Linked DNA regions of Homo sapiens: region 1 is linked to region 2. Evidence: fine-mapped QTL for protein levels in blood plasma. A gene starts in region 2. The other region holds a variant in brackets. All regions are shown on one strand. Distances are from middle to middle. Region 1 overlaps DPPA3 (developmental pluripotency associated 3). Region 2 holds the start of CLEC4C (C-type lectin domain family 4 member C).

What was found. PIP is the chance, under the fine-mapping model, that this variant and not a neighbour inherited with it causes the effect. The UK Biobank Pharma Proteomics Project read protein levels with antibody pairs (Olink). The fine-mapping took linkage between variants from a reference panel, not from the people measured, so its PIPs are less certain.
Region 1: its variant is fine-mapped to the plasma level of the CLEC4C protein (UK Biobank, PIP above 0.99).

What each region holds. Positions count from the first base shown.
Region 1 is chr12:7,712,892-7,727,269 of GRCh38, forward strand. DPPA3 (developmental pluripotency associated 3) reads left to right here. Exons shown (of 4, transcript NM_199286.4): 2 at 2,292-2,536; 3 at 3,307-3,348; 4 at 4,076-4,668. The coding sequence ends at 4,186. Among named protein-coding and RNA genes, the nearest start is that of DPPA3, 8.6 kb to the left of the region's middle. The variant T/C (reference allele first, on the strand shown) is at 4,422.
Region 2 is chr12:7,739,423-7,755,073 of GRCh38, forward strand. CLEC4C (C-type lectin domain family 4 member C) reads right to left here and starts at 7,953. Exons shown (of 6, transcript NM_001371390.1): 1 at 7,896-7,953; 2 at 6,909-7,001; 3 at 1,999-2,109. The coding sequence starts at 7,926. RefSeq lists enhancers at 9,729-9,808, 9,829-10,008, 10,189-10,268.

The DNA of each region.
Region 1 (14,378 bases), 27 kb before region 2:
AGACAGGCTTTCCAGCTAAATGTTAATAAACAGACTAACAGCTTCACTGGGAAAATGGAAGGGAGAGGCCGTAAACGTGCTCCGTAATGTAAATTAGTAGCAGGACCTCCACCGGAGGGCGGCTTATCTAGAAACTGCTTGGGTAATTCTGCTCCCTGATAGGCCGGGTCTTCCGGTGGAGAACTCCTTTCTTACAGCAGCACCCAAGCGCGGGCTTGGCCACAGAGGCCCTCCACGTGGTTTGAAGTCTTATTTATGACCCTGACAGCGGGGCTGGGTGTCTAGGGTGGTGGCGGCAGAAACCCTGGAGCCAACACCTTCGACTGCCCGATGCTGGGAGGTCTGGGAACTGGGCCGCTGGCGCGCTGACGCCCTCTGCGCCTGGTCTTAGCTGTGTCCCCTGCGTCCAGAAGAAAGAATGCTGGTCTATATATCCGAGTGGGAAAGAAAAATGAACGTACCCCCAGTCTCTCCCTTTCCTTGCGTCTGCCTTAGTACCTCACAGTTCCACAAAGGATCCTCGTTTCTATGTGCACAGGTCCCTAGACTTTGAGAATCGATCTCGAACTTTGATATTGTTTAATACTTTCACATATAGGGGGCAAAAAACAAAACAAAACACACATACACGGGCAGTTAACGATAACCTTCTTATTGTATGAGATATGCGTATGTATGGGATACGCCTCACAGTTCGGATGGGAGAGACGAGAATGAGTGGTTGATTTCCCAAAATAGAGTTTGAGTGAAGAGATCTAATACCATGAAGGAGCTGGGCAACTAAATTAGGGCTAACTGGAGAGGGTAACAGCCACTTACTTCGACTGCCCAGTTTTGCTTAAGGATGAGGATTCTGGGAGAAAATAGTATATGGGTTTTTCTTGTCTCTTTCACAAGATTCCACAGAATGTACGGTAGGTAATGCTTGTGAGATACTCAGTGGATCTCTTAAGTGTAAGTGAACAAAGCTAGCTCAGGGCAGCGTGTGGGACACGCTTGTAGCGCCAGCTACTCTGGACGCTGAGGTGGGAGGATCCCTTGAGCCTGGGAGGTAGAGGCTGCAATGAGCCATGATAGTGCCACTGCACTCCAGCCTGGGTGACAGAGCAAGACCCTGTCTCAAAAAATAACAGTCTACCATCCTGGCTAACACGGTGAAACCCCTTCTCTACTAAAAAATAGAAAAAAATTAGCCGGGCATGGTGGTGGGCGCCTGTAGTCCCAGCTGCTCGGGAGGCTGAGGCAGGAGAATGGCGTGAACCCGGGAGGCGGAGCTTGCAGTGAGCCGAGATGGCGCCACTGCACTCCAGCCTGGGAGGCAGAGCGAGACTCCGTCTTAATAATAATAATAATAACAGTCTAGAAAACAAGGGATTACAGTCATCCCTCGGTTATACTCTGGGAATTGTTCCAGGACATCCCCAAAATCTGTAAGTGATCAAGTGCCACAGTGGGCCCTGCGAAACCTTGTGAAAAAGGTTAACAGTGTGTGTGGGGATTTCGAATTTTGTGATTGGTTGGAAAAAATTCTCGCGTAAGTGGGACCCAAAGTTTAAACCCGTGTTGTTCAAGGGTCAACTGTGTTATCATGTGCCCCTGTACAAGTGACTTCTTCCTGCCTTGACTTTCCTTTTTTTTTGAGACGGAGTTTTGCTCTTGTTGCCCAGGCTGGAGTGCAGTGGCGCAACCTGAGGTCACTGCAAACCTCCGCTTCCCGGATTCAAGCGATTCTCCTGCCTCAGCTTCCCGAGTAGCTGGGATTACAGGCATGCACCACCACCACGCCTGGCTAATTTTGTAGTTTTATTTCTATTTTTATTTTTATTTATTTATTTTTTTGAGACGGAGTCTTGCTCTGTCCCCCAGACTAGAGTGCAGTGGCGCGATCTCGGCTCACTGCAAGCTCCACCTCCTGGGTTCACACCATTCTCCTGCCTCAGCCTCCCAAGTACCTGGGACTACAGGCGCCCGCCACAACGCCCGGCTAATTTTTTGTATTTTTTAGTAGAGAGGGGGTTTCACCGTATTAGCCAGGATGGTCTCGATCTCCTGACCTTATGATCTGCCCGCCTCGGCCTCCCAAAGTGCTGGGATTACAGGCGTGAGCCACCGCGCTGGGCTAACTTTGCGATTTTTGAGAAAAGACTAGAGGTTGTGCGTTGTTTACTGTGACCTTCCACCCTGAGGAATTTCCCACACAGCGCCCTGTTCCCCTGCTTAAGGGCAGACCTAGTTGATGTGTGAATGTTGAAGATCCCCTTAATGTAATGGCTTTTAACCTTCTCTTTCAGGGGCCTCTCAAATCTCCTCCGAGACGTTGATAAAGAACCTTAGTAACTTGACTATCAACGCTAGTAGCGAATCTGTTTCCCCTCTATCGGAAGCTTTACTCCGTCGAGAGTCTGTAGGAGCAGCAGTCCTCAGGGAAATCGAAGATGAGTGGCTTTACAGCAGGAGAGGAGTAAGAACATTGCTGTCTGTGCAGAGAGAAAAGATGGCAAGATTGAGATACATGTTACTCGGCGGAGTTCGTACGGTATGTTGATGTGATGTGGCCGGGGCTGTCCAATTCCGGAGAGTGACACTCATAAATTAAGACCTAATTAAGACTCCCTAGCTCTAGGCCCGGTGCGGTGGCTGAGGCCTGTAATCTGAGCACTTCGGGAGGCTGAGGCAGGTGGATCACCTGAGGACAGGAGTTCGAAACCAGCCTGGCCAACATGGTGAAACCCTGTCTCTACTAAAAATACAAAAAGTTAGCTGGGCCTGGTGGTGGGCACCTGCAATCTCAGCTACTTGGGAGGCTGAGGCTAGAGAATTGCTTGAACCCTGGAGGCGGAGGTTGCAGTGTGCCGAGATTGTGCCATTGCCCTCCAGCCTGGGCAACAAGAACAAAACAAGCGTCTCAAAAAAAGACTCCCAGCTCACGTCTGTAATCCCTGCACTTTGGAAGGCTGAGGTGGGAGGATCACCTGAGCTCAAGGAGTTCCAGACCAGCCTAGGCAATATAAAAAATTAATAAAATCAGCCATCTCTACAAAAAATTAATTAGCTGGGTGTAGTGGTGCGTGCCTGTAAGTCCCAGCTGCTGTGGGGTGGGTGGCTGAGGGCTGAGGCAGCTGGATCACTTGAGCCTGGGGGGTTAAGGCTGCAGTGAGCCATGATTGCTCCACTGCAATCCAGCCTGGGCAACAGAGAAAGACCCTGTCTCAACAAATTCCCTAGCTTCTCTCCCTTATATAGATGTGTAATATTAGTAATCTTTTTCTTGATAGTTTTCAATAAACATATTTTTTTCCCATGAAGCATGAAAGAAGACCAACAAACAAGGAGCCTAAGGGAGTTAAGGTAAGTATAATTTTTTTCTTTTTATTTTCCTTTTTTTTTTTTGGCTATATATGTGGATGGGTATCTGGTTTGTTTCCTTTTGCCGGAATAGGGAATTAGGGAATTTGCTTGGACTTTCTGAATCCCCAGGGACTCTGGATAAGTCAGTTCATGTTTGTAGTTTTTAAAAATATATTCTTTATTCTTTATTTTTCAGAGAAGTTTTATGTTCATAGCCTTTCCCCCACACCCCACACATGCCGCCTCTACTGTCAACGTCACACACCAGAATTGCACACTTTGCAGCTGATGAACTTACCCTGACAGGATTATCATCCAGAGTTCATAGTTTACACTAGGGGTCACTCTTGGTGTTAGGTTGATACTTTCACGTGCTGTCACAAATATCTTCACGGTAGCACTGTATAGTAAGAGGACAAACACTTCAGCAGAGTGTCTAGTAGCAGAATGAGTTACATTTAAGGCATTCAGAGAACGGAGACTAGAATGTTTTATTGACAGTCTGCACTTGTTACCATTACAAAATGACCCACAAGCTGCCATTCTGTGGTACCCATATTTTGATCTTTTTTTCTCCTAAAATGTTTTGCTTTTGGCCCGTGTGTCCTTTTTTGTGTGTGTTCCCTGTTCCAACACTTACCAAAATAAACAACATTATAGTTGAGGGCTTATTACATTTCTCTGGGGTACAATATTCCAATTAATCCATTTCATCATTTTTTTTCAGAAGGAATCAAGACCATTCAAATGTCCCTGCAGTTTCTGCGTGTCTAATGGATGGGATCCTTCTGAGAATGCTAGAATAGGGAATCAAGACACCAAGCCACTTCAGCCATAAATCTTATTCTTGCACCTTTTTTTCTTGGTAGTAATTTTATATAGCAGGTTGAGAAAGCTACTCTATGCTAGTATAGACTATACACCAATAATTTTGATAATGAGTTCTAGGATGTATTTTTCTTGTATCTTTTTCTTCCTACTATGATACTAGTAATTCATAAGGGATCTGTGTAATCTGAATGTATTTGAATAACTTTAGCTCTACTGTTTGATTTGACCCAAAGAAGCCAAGA[T/C]GATATAAGTATTCCCATGTGTCTTAGAAGCCCAAAGTCAGTGAGATGAAACCCAACATCAAGAAATTGAAGCAAAGTTACTTATGGATAAAGAAAGCATTAGGTAGTTGGGCTATAGCATAATTAGATTTTCTGGCTTTCAAAAATTTGGATTGCAATCACAGCAAACTTTGTTATTTTTACAGTTTTCAGTACAAAAGTGTTTATATAGAAACAATAAAGTTGACATTTGAGTACCTTTTAAAAATTGTTCTTGATTTTATTCTTTTTCTTACTAACAATTAGATGAACAATAGTTTTATTACATTTCTAGAATGTAAATATCTGGCATTCTAATATTTTATATCTTCCCACTGGGAAGAAACTTCATTGTACATTTGGGTGAGATTGGAAAACACAGGCACAGATAGTTGCAAATATCAACTTCCCATTAGAGATGTGAAAATTGGAAGGAGGTAGAACAGAAGTGGAGCTTACTACGTTGTTGATAGGAAATATGCAGGGGTCCTCACACCAGGCAAGCAATTCTTTTTTGTTTGTTTGGTTTTCTGAGACAGTTTCGCTCTTGTAGCCCAGGCTGGAGTGTGATGGCACTATCTCAGCTCACTGCAACCTCCGCCTCCTGAGTTCAAGCGATTCTCTTGCCTCAGCCTCCTGAGTAGCTGGGATTACAAGCACCTGCCACCACGCCTGGCTAATTTGTGTATTTTTAGTAGAGACAGGGTTTCACCATACTGGCCAGGCTGGTCTGGAACTCCTGACTTCAGATGATCTGCCTGCCTTGGCTTCCCAAAGTGCTGGGATTACAGGTGTAAGCCACGGCACCTGGCCTCCAAGCAAGCAATTCTGCCATAGATATCAGCTGGGTGTCTAATTCAATTCCAGCACTGTCTACCTGGAAATAGCTCCAGATCTTACAGGTTGAAGGCTCAGTCCCACAAGACTGCCTGCACTTCTAATGCTAATCACAAGCTTCAGGTTGTCTTACCTGTGCTTTTGACTGACCAGCTACAAATCAGGGTTCCCTCGACCCCTTGCTTGAGTTTGATTAATTTGCTCTAGTGGCTCATAGAACTCAGGGAAACACCTTACTTATTGTGAAGGATATTACAAAGGATACAGATGAATAACCAGATGGAAGAGATGCATAGGGCGAGGTATAGGAGAAAAGACAAGCAGGGTGAACCACCCTTAAGGAGTGTGAAACTGTCCAGGAGCCCTCAGAACTCCTTTTGTGTTTTTAGGGAAGCTTCATTAGGTAGGCATGATTGATTACATCACTGGCCATTGGTTTATCAACTCAACCTTCAGCCCCTGTCCCTTCCCCTGGAGGTCCCGGAATGGGAGTGAAACTTTCAACCCTCCAATCACTTGGTGGTTTCTCCTGGCAACCTGCCCACATCCTGAGGGTATCTTGGAGCCCCCAGCAAAGCAGTCACCATTAGCATACAAAAGTTATCACTCCAGAGATTTTGAAGATTTTAGGAGCTATATGACAGGAAATGGTGACTAAGAACAAATATGTTTTATAATATCACAGGGAGAATTGGAAAGGATATCTGCATGATATGTAATAACCCAAGAAGATGCTATCCAGTGATTTCTTTGTGGTTTTTGTTTTGTTTTTTGAGATGGGGTCTCACTTTGTTGCCCAGGCTGGAGTGCAGGACCACACTGCCAAGTTTGGTCATCAGAAGTTACCCCACTGAAGAACTAAATTTAACATGGTCTACCAGCAAGGACAAATGTGGGGCAGATTGAGCATTGGTTATATTTCTTTTTTTTTTTTTTTTTTTTTTTTTTTGAGATGGAGTTTCACTCTTGTTGCCCAGGCCGGAGGGCAGTGGCGCAATATCAGCTCACTGCAACCTCTGCCTCCCATATTCAAGCAATTCTCCTGCCTCAGCTTCCTGAGTAGCTGGGATTACAGGCATGTGCCACCACACCCAGATAATTTTGTATTTTTTAGTACAGATAGGGTCTAACCATGTTGGTGGTATCGAACTCCTGACCTCAGATGATCTACCCACTTCAGCCTCCCAAAGTGCTGGGATTACAGGCATGAGCCACTGTGCCCGGCAGAGCATTTGTTATAACTTACAAATCGTTCCTAGTAGCAAAGCTAACTTTTATTATTTTTCTGTATGAGCTTGAAAATCACTGACTAGTTAAAAAAGGCAACTTATTTTTATTGCAATCATGTTAAATTTGTAAATTAATGAAAACATTAATTCTACATGTCACATGTCCTTTCGTATTCTTTTGAGATGCAGTCTCGCTCTGTCACCAATGCTGAAGTGCAGTGGTGCCATCTCTGCTCACTGCAACCTCCACCTCCCAGGTTCAAGCGATCCTCCTGCCTCAGACTCCCAAGTAGCTGGGACTACAGGCGTGTGCCACCACGCCCAGCTAATTTTTGTATTTTTAGTAGAGACAGGGTTTCACCATGTTAGCCAGACTGGTCTCGAACTCCTGACCTCAGGCAATCTGCCTGCCTTGGCCTCCCAAAGTACTGGGATTATAGGCATGAGACACCGCGCCTGGCTAGTATTTAGGTATATTTTTAAACCTTTCTATAATAATATCTTCCTTTCATGTATTTCCTGCTGAGAGCATCAGTTCAAGTTGCCCTGAATCTTTATGCTCCCAGTTTACATTTATTGAGTGCTAGGCATTATTCTAAGGATTTTACGTGCATTAGCTTATTTAAACCTCAAAACTTCTGAGATAGGTCACTTTCGGTGTCTTCATTTTACAGAAAAAAAAAAGCACAAAAGTAGTGAACTTGCTCAAAGTTACATAAGAAGTGGCTTATCCGAGATGGAAGTCAGCTAAGCCAAGTCGGTACTTTCTTCTTTTTTTTTTTTTGAGATGGAGTTTTGCTCTTGTAGCCCAGGCTGTAATGCAATGGTGCAATCTCGGCTCACTGCAACCTCCGCCTCTTGGGTTCAAGCAATTCTCCTGACCTCTCCCCGTGTCGGCTTCCCAAAGTGCTGGGATTACAGGCGTAAGCCACTGCGCCTGGCCCAAGTCGTACTTTCTACAGATATCTTCCTCTTCAGATTATATTATGGTGTGTTAAAATATTGCCATTACATTTTTCAACTGGTTGTAATATATGAAAGTTGTTTTTTTTCTATATTTACTTATTTGAGCCAGGGTCTCTCTCAGTTGCCCAGGCTGGGAGTGTAGTGAGGCTTGGCTCACTGCAAACTCCACCTCCCGGGCTGAAGCAATCCTCCCACCTCAGCCTTCTGAGTAGCTAGAACTACAGGCATGAGCCACAATGCCCGGCTAATTTTTTGTATTGTTTGAGGAGACAGAGTTTCACCGTGTTGCCCAGGCTAACGCTGTTAATTTCTCTATTTGCTGTTCACTCAACATTTTTTGTTTTACTTTAAACTTTTTTTAAAAAAATTTCAAACTACATAAAGTTGCAAGCTTAAGCTCATAAACCTGTGTGTACATTTTACCTAGATACAACAATTGTTAGCATTAGCCACATTTCATTTAACATTCTATATTTTCTCTTTTTAAACAGATATTTGAGAGTAAATTTCAGATAACACTTCATCCCAAAATAGTTTGTGTTTTCTTAGAACAAGAATATTGACTTATATAACCACAGTAGAAGGATAAAATTCAAGAAATTTATGGCCAGATGTGGTGACTCATGCCTATAATCTCAGCACTTTTGGTGGCTGAGCCCAGAGATTTGCTTGAGGCCAAGAGTTCGAGACTAGCCTGGCAACATAGTGAGATCCTAGTCTCTACAAACAAAAAATAAATTAGTCAGGTGTAGTGTTGGGGGCCGGGGGGAAGATGTGGAAGGGATAGGAAGCGGGAAAGGGGTAGGAAGGGATAGGAAGGGAGGAAATGGGCTAGAGGACCCCAGGGGTTCAAAAGGCAACTTATTTATTTATTTATTTATTTATTTTGAGGCAGAGTTTCGCTCTTGTAGCCCAGGCTGTAGTGCAATGGTGCAATCTCGGCTCGCTGCAACCTCCGCCTCCTGGGTTCAAGCAATTCTCCTGCCTCAGCCTCCCGAGTAGCTGGGATTACAGGTGCCTGCCACCTCGCCTAGCTAATTTTTGTATTTTTAGTAGAGACGGGGTTTCACCACATTGGCCAGGCGGATCTGGAACTCCTGACCTCAGGCAATGCGCCCACCTCAGCCTCCCAAAGTGCTGGGATTACAGGTGTAATCCCAGCACAGGCACCACGCCCGGCCCAGAGTTTATTTTTGTATTTCTGCTGGCCCACGCAGTCCAGCCCAAAGGGCCTATGGCCCAAGGCCCCACAATCAGGCCCCAGCGGTCACCAGCTCTGGTCTTGGACCAGCCCTTGGTGCCCACCTGTACCCCCACCTCACCCATTTGGTCACATGCACTGGTTGTCACTTTACTACAGCTCATTCCTTCCCAATAAAAGTTTCTGTGACTTAAAAAATATACATATATTTTTCTATATGATGTTAGATAGGGGTCCTACTTAATTCTTTTGCATATGGTTATCTAGCTGTCCAAGCAACATGTGTTGAAAAGACCATTCTTAAAAAAATAAATAAATAAATAAAAAATAAAAATAAAAAAAGACCATTCTTTCCCTATTGAGTTGTTAACAATCAATTGACTATTAATGTGAATGTTTATTTTTGAATTTGCTTATTACATTGATCTATACATTTGTTTATTTATTTATTTATTGAGATGAAGTCTTGCTCTGTTGCCCAGGCTGGAGTGCAGTGGTGCGATCTTGGCTCATTGCAACCTCCGTCTCCTGGGTTCAAGCGATATCCTGCCTCAACCTCCCGAGTAGCTGGGACTACAGGTGTGTGCCATCACGCCGGGCTAATTTTTGTATTTTTAGTAGAGACTGGGTTTCACCATGTTGGCCAGGCTGGTCTTGATCTCCTGATCTCAGGCCATCCGCTCACCTTGGCATCCCAAAGTGCTGGGATTACAGGCGTGATCCACCTCACCTGGCCTGATCTATATGTTTGTTTTTATGCCAATATCACACTGTCTTGGTTACTCTTGCTCTGTGGTACATTTTGAAATCAGGAAGTGTGAGTCTTCCAACTTTATTCTTCTTTTTCAAGTTGTTGAGACTTTATTAATTTAAAATATTATTAGGCCGGGCAAGGTGACATAAACCTGTAGACCCAGCTACTCCTGAGCTGAGGAGGGAGGATCATTTGAGGCCAGGAGTTCGAGGCTGTAGTGCCCTATGATCACACTGTGAACAGCTGCTGCACTGCAGCCTGGGCAACATAGTGAGGCCCCTTCTCTAAAAATAAATTAAAAATAGGCTGGGCACAGTGTCTTACGTCTGCTCTCCCAGCACTTTGGGAGGCTGAGGCAAGAGGATCACTTGAGCCCAGGAGTTTAATGCCAGCCTGGGCAACATAGCTAGACCTCATCTTTACAAATAATAAAAAAAATTAGCTGGGTGTGGTGGTGTGCACCTGTGGTCCCAGGTACTTGAGAGGCTGAGATCACGGCCCTGCTTGGGCAATAGAGTGAGACCTTGTCTCAAAAAATAAAAAATTGTTATAAGGATACTTTGGTTTGATATATCACTTATCAAATTTGTGCTGTGCCATAATGAGATTTCTCATATGCTTGTGGGCTTTTCTCTATTCTTTTGAATTCCTTATAAGATTGAGGCCAGGCACAGTGGCTCATGCCTGTAATTCCAGCACTTTGGGAGGCTGAGGCGGGTGGATTACCTGAGGTCAGGAGTTCAAGACCAGCCTGGCCAATGTTGTGAAACCTCATCTCTACTAAAAATACAAAAATTAGCCGGGCATGGTGGCGGACGCCTGTAATCCCAGCTACTCAGGAGGCTGAGGCAGGAGAATCGCTCGAACCTGGGAGGCGGAGATTGCAGTGAGCTGAGATCACACCACTGCACTCCAGCCTGGGCGACAGAGCAAGACTCCATCTCAGGAAAAAAAAAAAAAGAGAGATTGAAAATTAAGTTTATCTTAAGATCCATTATTTTTCAAAACAGTGAGAGTCTTGGCCAGGCACAGTGGCTCACGCCTGTTATCCCAACACTTTGAGAGGCGGAGGCAAGGCAGGTGGATCACCTGAGGTCAGGAGTTCGAGACCACCCTGGCCAACATGGTGAAACCCCGTCTGTACTAATAATACAAAAATTAGCTGGGCGTGGTGGTGCGTGCCTGTAATCCCAGCTACTCGGGAGTGGGACGCAGGAGAATCACTTGAACCCAGGAGACGAGGTTGCAGTGAGCCGAGATCACGCCATTACACTCCAGCCTGGGCAACAAGAGTAAAACTCCATCTCAAAAAAAAAAAAAAAAAAAAAAAGGTGAAAATCTAGTAATAAATATCAGGAAGAAATGGTGTGTGTAACTTGCTAAATGAGAGGTGGTAGATGAGATCTTTCCTATTTCCTGGTTACCAGGACCCATAGTCACATTTTAGTTTCAGAGTAACTCCAGCTCAGTTTCCTTCCTGCAGCGTTTGCTAAGGGACACCGTTTTGTAAGATCAGACACAAGAACGTTTTTCACTATCAAAAGTAGGCTAGCGATAGGATAAGAGAGTACATTTGGGAGAATGCCGACCTTATGTTACTGATTCCTATCTGCTTTATCTTTTTTTGGGAAAGGGCAGGGCATTTTATATGTACCCCCTCCTCCTTGCAGGATCAGATGTGACCAAAGTATCTTTGCCCACAAATAAAACTGGAGCTGGTGATTACATCTAATCTAATTGCTGAGCCATTGAACCAGCAGAGAGCCTGATAGCCAGGCCTGATGCTGCCGGTTGGTGAGAAAGGAGCGCAGGGTGATGCTAGGCAGAGTGTCTGCAAACAGCTGGCATTCCCACCATTTGGTGACGCAAGTACAGTTCAGAAAGTGGGTGGAACACAAACCATCTTGTAAGTAACCACCCATGACCTTCCCCCAACAAGGGACTGCTGGATGAGAATTCCCCAAAAGCAAAAGGTTGTGGGGATGGAGTAAAAGTTTAAGCCTCAGTTCCATTTTTATGACAAAGGACTGGGCAGAGACCAACACCCATAGAGCTCTCTAAAATCCAATCAATGCAACCCCATGAAACAGCCAAGTTTTAGGCCATTGCCACAGAGAGGAAACTGATGGCTGGTCAGTGTTGAGAATCCAAAACCACCCCTGACTATCACTGGAATGGGAGAGCTTTGAATCAAGTATAATTCAAACATTTAAAGTGAACATTTACACGTCAAGTATATATTTTATTACAAATTACTTTTTCATTATAGAGTATTATATTTCTAAATTCTAAACTTAATAACTGAAAGGTTTTTTTAATTTTTTTCTTTTTATTCATCATATCCAACCCCAATAAACTGGTTTTTTAAACATTTTTTATTTTTTTGAGGCAAGGTCTTGCTCTATAGCACAGGCTGGAGTGCAGTGACATGGTCATATCTCACTACACCCTCAACCTCCCAGGCTCAACTGATCCTCCCACGTCAGCCTCCTGACTAGGTGGAACAAAAGGCACACACCACCACACAGAGCTAATTTTTAATTTTTTTTGTAGAGATGGGGGTCTTGCTATGCTGCCCAGGCTGGTATCAAACTCCTAGGCTCAAGCGATCCTCCTGCCTTGGCCTCCCAAAGTCCTGGGATTACAGACATGAGCCACCATGCCTGGTCAAAAGTGTTTCAGTAACTGAAAATGACCCAAATATCGTGGAACTGGACTAATATTTCATTAATGAAGACCTGCTACGCTGGAAAAAAAGGGTTTCACAGACCCCAACGGTAGCAGGTATTGAAATCAACAAAACAATTTCACATTTATATCTTAGTTGAGTTTCCTCAATCAAACAAGCTTTATGTATATAACTTTAGGTTTCATGCTTCAATATTACATTATAACTTAGGTATCTTGAAATAAATGAAATAGAATTCAATGAAATTCTGATTAATCTTTCTACTCTTGTATACTTTCTGTCAAAAGTTACTGTAAGGGCTGGGCGTAGGATTACAGACTCATGCCTGTAATCCTAGCACTTTGGAAGGCTGAGGAGGTCGGATCACTTGAGGCCAGGAGTTTGAGACCAACCTGGCTAACGTGGTGAAACACCGTCTCTACTAAAAATATAAAAATTAGTTGGGCATGGTGACATGTGCCTGTAGTCCCAGCTACTCGGGAGGCTAAGGCACAAGAATTTCTTGAACCCGGGAGGCAGAGGTTGCAGTGAGCTAAGATGGTGCCACTGTATTCCAGCCTGTGTGACAGAGCCAGACTCTGTCTCAAACCAACAAACAAAAAGTTACTGTAATATGCTGAATGGCCCTCAGATATGCCCACACTCTAATCTCCAGAGCCTGCAAATGTTACCTTATATGGCAAAAAGGACTTTGTAAATGTGATTATTTTAAAGATCTTGAGTCTGGGAGATTGTCAGGATTGTCCAAGGGGGCCCGGTGTAATCACAATGATCCTTATGAGAGGGACACAGGAGAAGTCAGAGTTAGAGAAGACAGTGTGATCACAGAAGCAGAGATTTTGGAGAGGCGCTCTCTGAAGGCAGATGAAGTGGCCACAAGCCAAGGAATATAGGTGGCCACTAGAAGCTGGAAAAGTCAAGGAAGCAGATTTTTCTCTCACAGCCTGCAGAAGGAACTAGCCCTGCTGCCTCCCTGACTTCAGAGAACTGGGTCTCAGTTTGGACTTCTGACCTCCAGAACTATAAAAAAAATTAACTTGTGGCCAGGCACAGTGGCCCACACTGTAATCCCAGCACTTTGCGGGGCCGAGGCAGGTAGATGGCTTGTACCCAGGAGTTCGAGACCAGCTTGGGCAACATGGCGAAACCCCATCTCTGCCAAAAATACAAAATAGCTGGGCACGTTGGTGCATGCCAGTCCTAGCTACTTGGGAGGCTGAGGTTGCAGAGCTGAGATCATGCCACTACACTCCAACCCGGGTGAGAGTGAGTCCGTCTCAAAGAAAAAAATAATTTGTGTTGTTCTAAGCCATTTTGCGTTGATTTGTTACAGCAGGAACAGGAAACTAATGTGGCTATCAAATGTAATTTTCCCATCTGCTCAGGAGGTGTCCACCTCATAGTGCTGAGCTTGTGTATGAAATGATATTGCACAACAGCAAATGTAGATCAGGGGTTCTCAATCCCAGAAACTTAAACATGAGGATATCTGGGGTGAGGCATTTTTTAAAAAGCTCCCTAGGATTCTGATTATAATCTGCAAGCAAGGCTTAAAACTACTCATAGGGATGGGCAAATGAGAGGAATTGGTTAAGTTGATTTGTAAGAGTTAAACTGATAAATTCTACCTACAGTGGTTAAGGTGAGGTCAGATCTTTCTGGCTTTTTGTTTTTTTCTTTTGAGATGAAGTTTCGCTCTGTTGCCTGGGCTGGAGTGCAATGGCGTGATCTCGGCTCACTGTAACCTCTGCCTCCCAGGTTCAAGCGATTCTCCTGCTTCAGCCTCCTGAGTAGCTGGGATTATAGGCACCCGCCACCATGCCTGGCAAATTTTTTTGTATTTTTAGTAGAGAGGAGGTTTCACTGTGTTGGCCAGGCTGGTCTCAAACTCCTGACCTCAAGTGGTCCACCTGCCTCGGGCTTCCAAAGTGCTGGGAATACAAGTGTGAGCCACTGCACCCGGCCAAGTTCAGCTCTTTCAAAATAGCCCATCCTAAAGGAGAGTGAAGAAATCAGTGGCCGAAGAAATGAAATGATTCTGTTGCATCAAGATGATCAGGGCACAATCTCAGAAAGTTGGAAGTCATATTGGGAAAATCTACAAAAGTAGTCATGGATGGAACCAGCTTTATTGTAATTCTGATCACTATACCAGAGCAATGCATTACTCTGATGTAAATATGATGTATTTTTACTATACTAGAAATAAAGTGACCTGTGGGAACTTCAGTAAAAAGAATAAGAACAAATCGGGGAACATTTG
Region 2 (15,651 bases):
GAAATAATTGTTTGATGCCCTTTGGGTCCATATTTCCTTCCTGCAAAGGATTAAGGCCATAGAGGCATTTCTGGGGTGGAACTTGTCTCCCTCCGGCTCTGCATACGACGCTGTAGGCAGTCCCTGATCCTGGACACAGCCGACCAATTATCCCTGAGGAGGTGAGTAGGCCTGGACTAGGGAGCAACAGTTTGGCCTCACTCTAGGCCATATTTCATGGTTTGATTTTACCATCAATAAAGCTGATAATTTTATTTTATTTATTATCTTTTTTTTAGACAGGGTCTCACTTTGTCACCCGGGCTGGAGTGCAGCAGTGTAATTGCTGCTTACTGTAGCCTCAACCTCCGGAGCTCAACTGATCCTCCCACCTCAGCCTCCAAAGTAGCTAGGACTATAGGCACATGCCACCATAGCTCGGTAATTTTTTTTTTTTTTTGAGATGGAGTTTCACTCTTATTGTCCAGGCTGGGACAATCTCAGCTCACCACAACCTCCACCTCCCAGGTTCAAGTGATTCTCCTGCCTCAGCCTCCCGAGTTGCTGGGATTACAGGCATGCGACACCACGCCCGGGTAATTTTGTATTTTTAATAGAGACAGGGTTTCTCCATGTTGGTTAGGCTGGTGTCGAACTCCTGACCCCAGGTGATCCACCCGCGTCGGCCTCCCAAAGTGCTGGGATTACAGGCATGAGCCACCGTGCTGCGCTTGGGTGATTTATTTTTAAGTATTTTGTAGAGTTGAGGTCCCATCTTGTTTCCCAGGCTGGTTTCAAGCTCCCGTGCTTAGGTGATTACCCCTCCTCAGCCTCCCAAAGCACTGGGATTACAGATGTGAGCCACTATGCCAGGCATAATTTTATTCTTATCTGAATCCTGTGTATATTTATTTTTCAGTTAATCCAGAACTGTATAGGGAGAGGGATATATTTACTGTTGAACTTAGTGATTAATTGGATGCAGGGGTGAAGATGATAAGCAAAGAAAAACTGCTGGCCAGGCACGGTGGCTCACGCCTGTAATCCCAGCACTTTGGGAGGCCGATGCGGGAGGATTGCCTGAGCTCAGGAGTTCACGACCAGCCTGGACAACAAGGTGAAACCCCGTCTCTACTAAAATACAAAAAAATTAGCCGGGCCTGGCAGCGTGTGCCTGTAGTCCCAGTTACTTGGGAGGCCGAGGCAGGAGAACTGCTTGAACCTGGGAGGCAGAGGTTGCAGTGAGCCGAGATCGCGCCACTGCACTCCAGCCTGGGCGACAGAGTGAGACTCCGTCTCAAAAAAGAAAAAAAAGAAAAGAAAGAAAAAAGAGAAAAAAACTGCTAAGAATGATTCTTGAGTTTTAGGCTTTAATATTGATGGGAGCAGGAGGAAGTGAGACAGTTCTGAGGACCCCTGTTTGATACTTTAATTTTGAGGTGTCTATTTTTTTTTTTGAGACGGAGTCTCGCTCTGTCACCCAGGCTGGAGTGCAGTGGCGCGATCTCGGCTCACTGCAAGCTCCACCTTCTGGGTTTACACCATTCTCCTGCCTCAGCCTCCCGAGTAGCTGGGACTACAGGCGCCTGCCACTGCACCCAGCTAATTTTTTGTATTTTTAGTAGGGACAGGGTTTCACCGTGGTCTCGATCTCCTGACCTCGTGATCCGCCCGCCTCGGCCTCCCAAAGCGCTGGGATTACAGGCTTGAGCCACCGCGCCCGGACTTTTTTTGCATTTTTAGTAGAGATGCGGTTTCTCCGCATGTTGGTCAGGCTGGTCTCAAACTCCAGACCCTCAGGTAATCCACCCACCTCGGCCTCCCAAAGTGTTGGGATTACAGGTGTGAGCCATTGGGCCCAGCCTGAGGTGTCTATTTAAGATACCAAGTAGATAGTTAAAGAATGCAGTAGGAAAAACCAGGCTGCAGTTGATAATTTTAGTGCTGAAGATATAAACCATCAGACTAGGAATTTGATTAATAGCAAGGGAAGTCTTGTTGCCCATTGCAGAGTTGTACCTTCTATGTCCTTTCCTTCCATGACGCAGGTCAGGCTTGGATGATACTGTTGATACTCTCGTAACTTGGACAGCCTCTTGACAGTTTTGCTATACATAAAATTGTGAGGCACTGGGAAAGAGAAATCGGAGTTAGTTCTCATTCTTTTAAGTGGATCTATGTTGTACTATACAATCTTATGCTGTGGACAGGCACAGTGACTCACGCCTGTAATCTCAGCACTTTAGGAGGCCGAGGTGGGAGGACCATTTGAGGTCGGGAGTTAGAGACCAGCCTGGCTAACATGGTGAAACCCCGTCTCCACCAAAAATATAAAAATTATCCAGGTGGCCAGGCACAGTGGCTCACACCTGTAATCCCAGCGCTTTGGGAGGCCGAGGCTGGTTGGATCACTTGAGGTCAGGAGTTTGACCAACATGGTGAAACCCCGTCTCTACTAAAAATACAAAAATTAGCTGGGTGTGGTGGCGGGCACCTATAATCCGAGCTACTTGGGAGGCTGAGGCAAGAGAATTGCTAGAACCCAGGAAGCAGAGGTTGCAGTGAGCCGAGACCGCGCCATTGCACTCCAGCCTGGACGACAGAGCAAGACTGTGTCTCAAAAAAACAATTAGCCAAGGGTGGTGGCAGGCGCCTGTAATTCCAGTTACTCAAGAGGCTGAGGCAGGAAAATCACTTGAACTTGGAAGACAGAGGTTGCAGTGAGCCGAGATCGTGCCATTGCACTCCAGCCTGGGTGACAAGAGTGCAACTCCATCTCAAAAAAATAAATAAATAAATAAATAAAAATAAAGAATCTTATGACTTTACGGCTGGGCATGGTGGCTCACACCTGTAATCCCAGTACTTTGGGAGGCCAAGGCGGGTGGATCACCTGAGGTCAGGAGTTCAAGCCCAGCCCAGCCAACATGGTGAAACCCTGTTTCTACTAAAAATACAAAAATTAGGTGGGCATGGTGGCACATGCCTGTAATCCCAGCTACAGGAGGCTGAGGCAGGAGAATCACTTGAACCTGGGAGGTGGAGGTTGCAGTGAGCAGAGACCGTGCCATTGCACTCTAGCCTGGGCAATAGAGCCAGACTTTGTCTCGAAAAAAAAAAAAAAAAGCCTGGGCACAGTGGCTCATGCTTGTAATCCCCAGCACTTTGGGAGGCCGAGGTGGGTGGATCATGAGGTCAGGAGTTTGAGACCAGCCTGACCGACATGGTGAAACCCCATCTCTACTAAAAATACAAAAATTAGCCAGGCGTGGTGACACGTGTCTATTAATCCCAGCTACTCAGGAGGCTGAGGCAGGAGAATCACTTCGACCTGGGAGGCGAAGGTTGCAGTGAGCCGAGATCGCACCACTGCACTCCAGCCTGGCAACAGAACGAGACTCCATCTCAAAAATAAATAAATAAATAAATAAATAAATAAATAAATAAATAAATAAACGTTATGCTCTTACAAAGTCTGCAACATCTCTCTCTTGCCCATCCCATTTCAAGCCGTACTGTTTTTTTCTCATGCTTCTTTCTGTGCAGGTCCAGTAAAAAATATGTTCTTAACCCTATCTTATATTCATTTATCTTGTTTGTTTATAAGTTTACATACGTATATATCTTGATTTCCCCCTACAATAACATACAGTCTAGTGAAGGAATTTCATTGTATTCACGCTATATACCCAGCACCTAGAAAAGTGGCCTGCTCATAGTAGGTGTTCAGTAAGCATTTGTTGACTTACTAGGTAACAGCATCTAATTCTATTAATCCTGAAATATCACAGGTCTTTTGGTTTTTCCATAGTTTTCTGATGGCTGTAACTGTAAGTAAACCATTTGGGTCAAATTAAATATAAGGTAAAACCTAACCCTTTGGAGACATTTAGACATCTTTTGCTAAAAACGGTCTCTTTTGTTCACTGGCAGGCACATAGAGCAAGATCTGACTTTTCACTTATCCTCACTTAATTCTTTTTTTTTTTTTTTCTTTTTTTGAGATGGAGTCTTGCTCTGTCGCCCAGGCTGGAGTGCAGTGGCGCGATCTTGGCTCACTGCAAGCTCCGCCTCCTGGGTTCATGCCATTCTCCTGCCTCAGCCTCCTGAGTAGCTGGCACTACAGGCGCCCGCCACCGCGCCCGGCTAATTTTTTTTGTATTTTTTTTTTAGTAGAGACAGGGTTTCACCATGGTCTCGATCTCCTGACCTCGTGATCCGTCCGCCTCGGCCTCCCAAAGTGAGCCACCACGCCCGGCCTTAATTCTTTATTCATGTATTTCATCATTCTGATTTTGAGACTAAACCTAGTCAAACTCTTCTATTTTCTCTGAATTTATGTCTTTAAGTTCTTGCATGTCTTCTTTCCTCTCAGATAATTAAATAACCATCTTGTATTAGTCCGTTTTTGCATTGCTATAAAGGAATACCTGAGACTTGGTATTTATAAAGAAAAGACATTTTACTGGCTCACAGTTCTGCAGACTGTACAGTAAGTATGGTGCCAGCATCTGCTCACCTTCTGGTGAGGCCTCAGGAAGCTTTCAGTCATAGTGGAAGGCAAAGCGGGAGCTGGCATATCACATGGCAAGAGAGGGTGCAAGAGAGAGTGAGGGGGAGGGGCTGATCTCACCCCAACTCAGAGCAAGAACTCACTTATTCCTTCGAGGAGGGTGCCAAGCCATTCATGAGGGATCCATCTGCATCACTCAAAACCTCCTGCCATGCCCCACCTCCAACAGTGGGGATTTCAAATTTCAAGTGATAGTTGTCCCTTCCAAATTTCAAATTTTCAACATGAGACTTGGAAGGGACAACTATCCCAACCATATCACATCTTTAAGCCCTTTTGTCTCTTGCCCTTTGTTATAAAAAGCAAAGCAAAGTTTAACTTTAGTAATAATTCTGCCTCTTGGGGTTACATTGAAAACTGTGAGATGTATTTACAACTAGAAAGAAACTGAAGACTGTATCATCAACACATTTTTACTTGACATAGGAAGTCATCGTATTCAGTAACTTCCTCACAGATGTTTCATTTCTGTTTCTAATCATAATATTAGATAATAGAGCACATTTTGACACCCAAATAGTAAACAAGAGAGTTGGGAAATTTCTCAGGTGTCACAAAAATATAAAACTTGGCAAAGGGAGTAGCAATTAAATAATAGTTTACTTTGTTTATTTTTCCATTGTATCACTGTATAAACATTTATTTTTATTTTTATTTTTTGAGACAGGGTCTCTCTGTCGCCCAGGCTGGATTGCAGTGGTACGATTATGGCTCACTGCAGCCTCAACTTCCTGGGCTCAAGCGATCCTCCTGCCTCAACCTCCTGAGTAGCTGGGACCACAGGCACATGCCACCATGCCAAGTTATATTTTTTATTTTTTATGGAGACAGGGTCTCATTCTGTTGCCCAGGCTGGTCTTGAACTCCTGTCCTCAAGCGATCCTCCCACCTGAGCCTCCCAAAGTGCTCACAGGTGTGAGCCACTGCCTGGCCATATGAACAATTTTTCCTGTCATGTTGGGAAGAATCTCACATGAAGATTAAAACCCCACAGTAATACAATTATAGCATCATAGAAAGAATAATAGTTATGTTCCCAATAGAGACTTTTTTAAAACAAAGGAGCAGATCAACTAGATGGTACCCACCATCAGCACACCCATCAAAGTGGAGTTATTGTTATAGAATGAATTGCGTCCTCCCCAAGTTCATATATGGAAGTCCCAAGCTCCAATTTGTGGTATTTGAAGATAGGGGCTTTGGGAGGAAATCAGGTTTAGATGAGGTTATGAGGGGGGGCTCTCATGGTGAGATGAATGCTCTTATAAGAAGAAACCGTGACGAGCTAGCACTCCCTCCATCATGTGAGGACACAGCAAGAGGGCATCAGCTGTAAGCCAGGAAGAGGGACCTCACCATACCCAACCATCCTGACATCCTCATGTCAGACTTCCAGCCTCCAGAACCATCAGAAAATAAATATCTGTTTTTTAACTCACTCAGTCTATGCTTTTTTTTTTTTTTTTTTTTTTTTTTGAGACAGAGTCTCACTCTGTCACCCAGGCTGGAGTGCAGTGGCGTGATCTCGGCTCACTGCAACCTCTGCCTCCTGGGTTCAACTGAGTCTCCTGCCTCAGCCTCCCAAGTAGCTGGGATTACAGGCGCGAGTCACTGCACCCAGCTAATTTTTGTATTTTTAGTAGAGACAGGGTTTCACTATATGGTCCAAGCTGGTCTTGAACTCCTGACCTCAGGTGATCTGCCTGCCTTGGCCTCCCGAAGTGCTGGGATTACAGGCATGAGCTACCACGCCTGGCCCAGTCTATGGTATTTTGTTATGGCAGCCCAAGCTGACCAAGACAGTTATGATCACATTTGAAAAATGCAACTAAAACCAGGCAAAGAAACCTGGAAGTACACACAATTATCCAGAATAATTAATAATAGTAATAACTCATTTTATTAGAAACATAGCCTTCTCAGTTAGGGTTGCCATTTTATGTCAAGAAAGGGGAACGTGGCCGGGCGCGGTGGCTCACACCTGTAATCCCAGCACTTTGGGAGGCCAAGGTGGGCGGATCACGAGGTCAGGAGATCGAAACCACCCTGGCTAACACAGTGAAAACCCGTCTCTACTAAAAATACAAAAAATTAGCCAGGCATGGTGGCGGGCACCTGTAGTCCCAGCTACTCGGGAGGCTGAGGCAGGCGAATGGCATGAACCCGGGAGGTGAGCTTGCAGTGAGCCGAGATCACGCCACTGCACTCCATCCTGGGCGACAGAGCGAGATTCCGTCTCAAAAAAAAAAAAAAAAAAAAGAAAAAAAAAGAAAGAGGAACGTGTTTCTTCAGGAAATTGATAAAATGTGATTGGGAAAAGGACCAAGAGATGACTGCACTCCAGCCAAGAACTTACCCACAGAACTCACAGTGAAACAGACACTGAGGAGCAAGATGGATACGACTGCCATGGACCAGACCTTCAACTGGAACCACCAGAGTCCTTTCTCTGTCAGATCAGCATGACAAATGCACAGTCATAATCCCCACTGCCAAAGAGCCAGGAAACCAGAGTCCCAAAAATCTTAGAATAATAAAGTCAGGCTATGATCAAAACTAATTAAAACAGAAAAAATGTGAAAGCAAAAAGAGATTATAGAAATTATCTCAGAACAAATGACCAGATAGTACCCTGGAACCCAAGACAAATCCAGGCAAAACTCTCAGAGTAAACTGTACTTTCCAATTCCTTACTCTCTTTTCCCTTGAATTGCACAGCCTTGGCCTCAAACTTCCAGGCTTAAGTGGTCCTCCTGCCTCAACCTCTGAGTAGCTGGGACTTTAGGCATTTGCCTGCATGCCTGGCCAAATTCATATTCCTTTAAGGCCTTCTAGGCCCGAGTTGTTTTTCTTTTTTTCTTTTTTTTGAGATGGAGTTTCACTCCTGTTGCCCAGGCTGGAGTGCAATGGCACGATCTCGGCTCACTGCAACCTCCGCCTCCCAGGTTCAAGTGATTCTCCTGCCTCAGCCTCCCAAGTAGCTGGGATTACAGGCATGTGCCACCACGCCTGGCTAATTTTCTATTTTTAGTAGAGACAGGGTTTCTCCATGTTGGTCAGGCTGGTCTCGAACTCCTGACCTCAGGTGCTCTGCCCACCTCGGCCTCCCAAAGTGCTGGATTACAGGCGTGAGCCACCGCGCCCGCCCGGCCTTTCTTTTTTTCTTTCATCTTTCCCTGATCCAAGTATCTTGGGTCCATACCTGTTTCCATACTGAAATTACTATTATTTATGAAAAGCTGTCTACTTCTTCTTCCAAAGTCATCCCTATCACCTCAATGCCTGTTTCCCACTCCATCCTGCTCCTACTACCTTCCCTAGAACTGAGAAGATGAGTGCTTACCTCGGTCTTGAGGCTCTTCTTCAGGCACCATTGTGTGTGCGCACACCCTTTGGACTTCCTCTATCAGGTGGGTGCAGAAGCTCTTGTATCACTTTCTCCAAAGATGTTACTTTCGGGGTGTGGTTCTTTCAAACAAGCCAAGCCCTTAGATCCTTCTTCGCCTACTCTTGCAAAGGAAGAGATGTGACTTAGGAGACTCTGCAGTGAGCTAAAGCTTTCAATTTAAAACATACATCATGTTCAGAAATAAGGAAACACAAACAAGGAAATCGAGAAATACATGAAAAACAGTTCATGGTTGCAGGTCTGATTGTCTTTTTTTTTTTTTTTTTTTTTTTTTTCTAGACAGGGTCTCACTCTGCCACCCAGGCTGGAGTATAGTGGTGCAATCTCAGCTCACTACTACCTCTGCCTCGCGGGTTCAAGCGATTCTCCTGCCTCAGCCTCCCGAGCAGCTGGGACTACAGGCATGTGCCACCATGCCCAGCTAATTTTTGTATTTTTAGTAGTGACAGGGTTTCATCATACTGGCCAGGCTTGTCTCGAACTCCTGACCTCCTGCCGTTGCACTCCAGCCTGGGCAACAAGAGCAAAACTCCATCTCCAAAAAAAAAAAAAAAAAAGCCTCTTTCATTTGTAAATTGCCCAGTCTCAGGTATGTCTTTATCAGCAGTATGAAAACGGACTAATACAGCCTCCCAAAGTCCTGGGGTTACCGTTGTGAGCCACCACGTGCCCGGCCACTGCTGAGTAATCTTAAATAGAGAAAATCCATTATAGCCTATGCTACTCAAATGGAGATGTTTGGTTGAAGGATGGTTACAACTACTGGTGAAATAGACACTGAGAAAGAAAGAACCTAGGTATTCCAGAATCTTCCCAGAGTTCAACTGAGATTTAATTGTAGAGTAGTGAGAAAAAAGTTTTGAGCTGGGCACGGTGGCTCATGCCTATAATCCCAGCACTTTGGGAAGCTGAGGTGGGCGGATCACGAGGTCAAGAGATCGAGACCATCCTGGCCAACATGGTGAAACCCCGTTTCTACTAAAAATACAAAAATTAGCCAGGTGTGGTGGTGCATGCCTGTAGTCCCAGCTACTCAGGAGGCTGAGGCAGGAAAATTGCTTGAACCCGGGAGGCGGAGCTTACAGTGAGCCGAGATCGTGCCACTGCACTCCACCCTGGGTGACAGAGCAAGACTCAGTCTCAAAAAAAAAAAAGTTTTGAGTTAGCAGCCATCCTTTGAGATATTTTAGGACCCAGACCAATGAGATCCTTTCTAAGCTGTATACTTGCTGAAACAACTTAAAGTCCTGTTTGGTCTCTTGTCTACCTCCCATTTACAGTTCCCTGAACCTCCCTCTGCCCCTGCCTCAGGGGTTCTCCCTGTTGCTTTCCTCTGTCTTGGATTAAAATGTAGAGTATGAGGGTATTCCTTTGAGTATACAATGCTGAGAAGAAAGGAGCAAAGGCAAAAATGAGAAAAATAATTTAAAATAGAACAAATTATAAAAGCAGAAAGAATGACAAATTATTTTCTCAGAAGAAAAGCAGAATTGCATGTAGGCCCAGCTCAGGTGACATCCCAGCAGAATGCTTTGAGTATGACCAGAGTATTGCAAAAGCTACAGCTGAAGAGGATAAATCTAGATAAGAATTGGTAGATGGTTTGCTCACTACTTCTTCCCCCGGTTGGTGAGGGAGGGAGTCCCAACCCAGGGTTATGGGTGGCTGGACACACAACACCCGACACTGGACAGATAAGACTGACAGCAGTTCAGCTGCATGTACTCACGGCCTGAGGCAGGAGGGCACCGCACACCATGCAGGGTCAGACAGAGGTTGCACTTGGGAGCAGGGTGACTGTGGGAGGCAGGATCTGCTGTAACAAGAGGGTGAGGTGGCCCCTTGGCTCTTGAGGGAGGATGGGATTGGCTTCTTTAAAGAATTTTGTGGCCAGGTGTAGTGGCTCGTGCCTATAATCTCAGCACTTTGGGAGGCTGAGGTGGGCGGATTGCTTCAGGCCAGGAGTTCAAGACTAGCCTGGCCAACATAGTGAAACCCCATCTCTACTAAAAATCCAAAAAATTAGCCAAGCATGGTGGCACACGTCTGTAATTTCGGCTACTCAGGAGGCTGAGGCACGAGAATCACTGGAATTTGGGAGGCAGGGATTGCAGTGAGCCGTAATCGTACCACTTCACTCCAGCCTGGGTGACAGAGTGAGATTCTGTGTCAACGAAAAAAAAAAGAGAAAAAAAAGATTTTGTGGGCCTTCAGGGAAGTGAAATCTATTAGCTTGAGGACCAGGTGGAGTGCAGCTGGCCCAGCTGAGATGGAAACTGGCTGAGTGAGAAACAGAAATATTTTTTTTTTTTGAGATGGAGTCTTTCTCTGGTCACCTAGGCTGGAGTGAGTGCAGTGGCTAAATCTTGGCTCACTGCAACCTCCACCTCCCGGGTTTAAGCAATTCTCCTGCCTCAGCATCCCGAGTAGCTGGGACTACAGGCATGCGCCACCACGACTGTCTAATTTTGTATTTTTAGTAGAGACAGGGTTTCTCCATGTTGGTCAGACTGGTCTTGAACTCCCAACCTCAGGTGATCCGCCCACCTCAGCCACCCAAAGTGCTGGGATTACAGGTGTGAGCCACAATGCCTGGCCATTTTTTGTTTTTGAGACAGGATATCAGTCTGTTGCCCAGACTGAAGTGCAGTGTCTCGACCTTCACTCACTGTAGCCTTGACCTCCTGGGATCAAGTGATCCTCCCACCTCAGCCTCCCGAGTAACTGGGACTATAGATACACGTCATTACACCTGGGGATCTTTTAAATTTTTTTTGTAGAGACAGGGTCTCGCTATGTTATTTCCCAGGCTGATCTCGAACACCTGGGCTCAGGTGATCCTCTTGCCTTGGTCTCCCAAAGTGCTAGGATTACAGATGTAAACCAGCATGCCTGGCCGGTGATGCTCTTTTAACATGAGTACCCAGTGTTTGGAATCAGGACAGGGCATCAGTTAGGTTTTGCTGTATAATCAATTAACTTAAAACTTAAAATACACAGCTATTCAATTAGTTCATAGTTCCCGAGAGTCAGCAATTTGGGCTGAACACCACTGGGTGATTCTGGTTTGGATTGGATCGGATCGGTTCCATCTCAGCTGAGCTCACTCTGCAATAAGCTGGTGGGCTGGGTGGGGCTGGCTGATTCACGTCTCTCTTTGGTCATCCTCTAGCGGATTAGCCTGGATTTACGTACATTGTGGCAGGAGGATTCCAGTAGTAGCAAGAAAACAAACCCTATTGTGTACATGCTTTTAAAAACCTGTGTGCCAGGAAATCACCAAATCACTCCAGCTATAACATTAAAAGACAACCACTCTCTTCCACTTAAAACTTATTGGCTGGCCACAATGCCTCACACCTGTAATCCCAGCACTTTGTGGGGCAAAGGCAGGAGGATTACTTGAGGCCTGGGCAACATAGTGAGACCTTCTCTCTACCAAAAAAAAAAAAACAAACAAACAAACAAACAAAAATTAGCCAGGTATGGTAGCATGTACCTGTAGTCCCAACTACTTGAGGGGCTGAGGTGGGAGAATCACCTGAGCCTTAGAGATCAGGGCTGCAGTGAGCTATAATCAAGCCACGGTGCTCCAGCCTGAGTGACAAAGACCCTACCTCTAAGATAAAATAAAAACCAAGAAGAAAAAGAAACCTCCCCAATATGTCAGTATTTACGCCTTCAGAAAAAGATTTCTATGTGAATAATGTTATATATTTGCAACATATTATCAAGCAAAGAAACCAGTAAGAGGCCAGGCACAGTGGCTCACACCTGTAATCCCAGCACTTTGGAAGTGTGTGGCAGGTGGATCACCTGAAGTCAGGAGCTTAAGACCAGGCTGCCCAACATGATGAAACCCCATCTCTGCTAAAAATACAAAAATTAGCTTAGTGTGGTGGCACTAGCCTGTAATCCTAGCTACTCAGGAGGCTGAAGCAGGAGAATCACTTGAACCCAAAGGCAGAGATTGCAATGAGCCGAGATCGTGTGTCCAGAATTGATAGGTTCTTGGTCTCACTGACTTCAAGAATGAAACCACGTACCCTCGCGGTGTTACAGCTTTTAAGATGGCACGTCTAGAGTTACTCGTTTCTCTCGGCGAGCTTGTGGTCTTGCTAGCTTCAGGAGTGAAGCTACAGACTTCCGCGGTATCACAGCTCATAAAAGAACCGTGGACCCAAACAGCGAAAGAACAAAGCTTGCACAGCACAGAAAGCAACTCGCAACCGGTTGCAACTGCTAGCTCGGGCAGCCTGCTTTTATTCTCTTATCTGGCCCCACCCACGTCCTGCTGATTGGTAGAGCCGAGTGGTCTGTTTTGACAGTGCGCTGATTGGTGCGTTTACAAACCTTGAGCTAGACATAAAGGTTCTCCACGTCCCCGTCAGATCAGTTAGATACAGAGTATCCACATAAAGGTTCTCCAAGGCCCCACCAGAGCAGCTAGATACAGAGTGTCGATTGGTGCATTCACAAACTGAGCTAGACACAGGGTGTTGATTGGTGTGTTTACAAACCTTGAGCTAGATACAGAGTGCCTATTGGTGTATTTACAATCCCTGAGCTAGACATAAAGGTTCTCCACGGCCCCACCAGACTCAGGAGCCCAGCTGGCTTCACCCAGTGGATCACTGCACTGGGGCTGCAGGTGGAGCTGCCTGCCAGTCCGCGCCCTTGCGCCCGCACTCCTCAGCCCTTGGGTGGTCGATGGGACTGGGCGCCTTGGAGCAGGGGGTGGCGCTCATCGGGGAGGCTCGGCCGCACAGGAGCCCATGGCGGGGGAGAGGTGGGAGGCTCAGGCTTGGCGGGCTGCAGGTCCCGAGCCCTGCCCCGCGAGAAGGCAGCTAAGGCCCGGTGAGAAATCAAGTGCAGCGCCGGTGGGCTGGCACTGCTGGGGGACCCAGTACACCCTCTGCAGCCGCTGGCCCGGGTGCTAAGCCCCTCATTGCCCGGGGCCGGCAGGGCCGGCCGGCTGCTCCGAGTGCGGGGCCCGCCAAGCCCACGCCCACCCGGAACTCCAGCTGGCCCGCAAGCGCCGCGCGCAGCCCCGCCTCTCCCTCCACACCTCCCTGCAAGCTGAGGGAGCCGGCTCCGGCCTTGGCCAACCCAGAAAGGGGCTCCCACAGTGCAGCGGTGGGCTGAAGGGCTCCTGAAGTGCCGCCAAAGTGGGAGCCTAGGCAGAGGAGGCGCTGAGAGCGAGCGAGGGCTGTGAGGACTGCCAGCACGCTGTCACCTCTCAATTGCGCCACTGCACTCCTGGGTGACAGAGGGAGACTCTGTCTCAAAAGAAAGAAAGAAACCAATGAGAAAAGCAGTCCTTAGGGTTTAAGATTCTATTTTATAGCTAGCCAGGTGGAGATATTGGGCTTGTGTAAGAGGAAGTTAGTGGTCAGACCACGCAGGGTGAAGTGAGAGTTTAACTTATCCAATAGCAGAAAGAGCCATTAAAGGCACTAAAGCAATGTGGTGAAAGGATCAGATTATATTTTTTTATTTATTTATTTTTTGAGACAGAGTCGACAGAGGAAGACTCCGTCTCAAAAAAATAATAATAAAAAAAAAGTCCAACTTTGAATGTATTGTTTGCAGAGGATGAAGTGGCAAAAGAGACAAAGAAGAATATCCAGAGAAATAGGAAAAGTGAGTGTCTTAGTCCATTCAGGCTATTATTATTTTTTTTCTGAGATGGAGTCTCGTTCTGTCACCCAGGCTGCAGTGCAGTGGCACGATCTTGGCTCACTGCAACCTCCACCTACCGGCTTCAAGTGATTCTTCCGCCTCAGCCTCCCCAGTATCTGGGACTACAGGCGCATGCCTCCACGCCCAGCTAATTTTTGTATCTCTAGTAGAGATGAGGTTTCACCATGTTGGCCAGGCTTGGTCTCGAACTCCTGACCTCAGGTGATCCACCCACTTTGGCCTCCCACAGTGCTGGGATTACAGGCATGAGCCACCAGGCCCGGCCCATTCAGGCTATTATAAGAAAATACTGTAAACTGGGTGGCCAATAGCAGCTGCAATTTATTTCTCACAGTTTTGGAGGCTGGAAAGTTCAAGATCAAGGCACTGGCAGATTTGGTGTCTGGCAAAGGCCCACTTTCTGGTTTATATATGGCTCCTTCTTGCTGTGTCCTCACATGGTGGAAGGGATGAGCCAGCTTTCTGGGGTCTTTTATTATAAGGGCACTAATTTCACTCATTTGGTTGAACCCTCATGACCTAATCACCTTCCAAAGTCCCCACCTCCAATACTATCACCTTGGAGGTTAGGATTTCAACATATGAATTTTGGGGAGACACAAACATTCAGACCATAACACCAAGTGTCAAGAAAGCCAAGGGGGCCGGGCGCGGTGGCTCAGCCTGTAATCCCAGCACTCTGGGAGGCCGAGGCGGGCGGATCATGAGGTCAGGAGATGGAGACCATCGTGGCTAACACAGTGAAACCCCGTCTCTACTAAAAATACAAAAAATCAGCCGGGCGTGGTGGCAGGCGCCTGTGGTCCCAGCTACTCAGGAGGCTGAGGCAGGAGAATGGAGTGAACCCGGAAGATTGCAGGCATGAGCCACCGTGCCTGGTAGTTCTTTATCACTTTTAGCATCTATTTCATTTTAAAAATCTGATTGATTTTTAAAATGCTACTACTAAATTTTGGCTTTCCCTAAAAAGAAGCACCAGGGCTCATGGACAGCATGTATTTTTTAGAATTTTTAAATCAATGAGGAAATGAAAGCCAACCTCAAAAATGAGAAGCAGAAACTTCCAGTTTGGATTGTGGCTTAAATAGCTTGTGGCAGACCAATTGTTTGCTGAGACCAACCAGGAAAGCTGGATCAATACAAAAAAACTATTAGGAAGCATCAGAGAGGCTTCCACAGAACAAGGAATTTCAGGAGCCAAGACCCTAGAGAGAGAGAAAGCTGGACATGGCATCTGCTGGCTCTTCAGCAGTGACTGAAGGACTGAGTGTCTGTGCAGTGTCTGTACAACTGGGAGGCTGGTAACTAAATAATAAAACTTTAGACAAGGACTCCTCTATGAATAATGAAGAGCTGAGAATGGACCTTTTTTTTTTTTTTTTTTTTGGAGTAAGGGTCTCATTCTATTGCCCAGTCTGCAGTGCAGTGGCCCAATCTTGGCTCACTGTAACCTCCACCACCTGAGCTCAAGCCATCCTCCCACCTCAACCTCCCAAGTAGCTGGCACTACAGGCACACACCACCATGCCCAGTTAAGTTTTGCATTTTTGGTAGAGATGGGGTTTCACCAGGTTGCCCAAGGTGGTTTCGAACTCCTAGGTTCAAGCGATCCGCCCACCTTGTCCTCCCAAAGTGCTGAGATTACAGACATGTGGCACTGTGCCTGGCCCAAGAAGAGACTATTAATTCATAAAGAATGAAATCCAGTTTGTTATATATTTATTTATTTATTTATTTATTTATTTAGGACAGAGTCTTCCTCTGTTGCCCAGGTTAGAGTGCGGTGACCTGATCTCAGCTCACTGAAACCTCTGCCTCCCAGGTTCAAGCGATTCTCCTCCATCAGCCTTCTGAGAAGCTGGGACTATAGGTGCGCGCCACCACTCCTGGCCAATTTTAGTATTTTTAGTAGAGACGAGGTTTTACCACGTTGGCCAGGCTGGTCTCAAACTCCTGACCTCAGGTGATCTGCTGGCCTTGGCCTCCC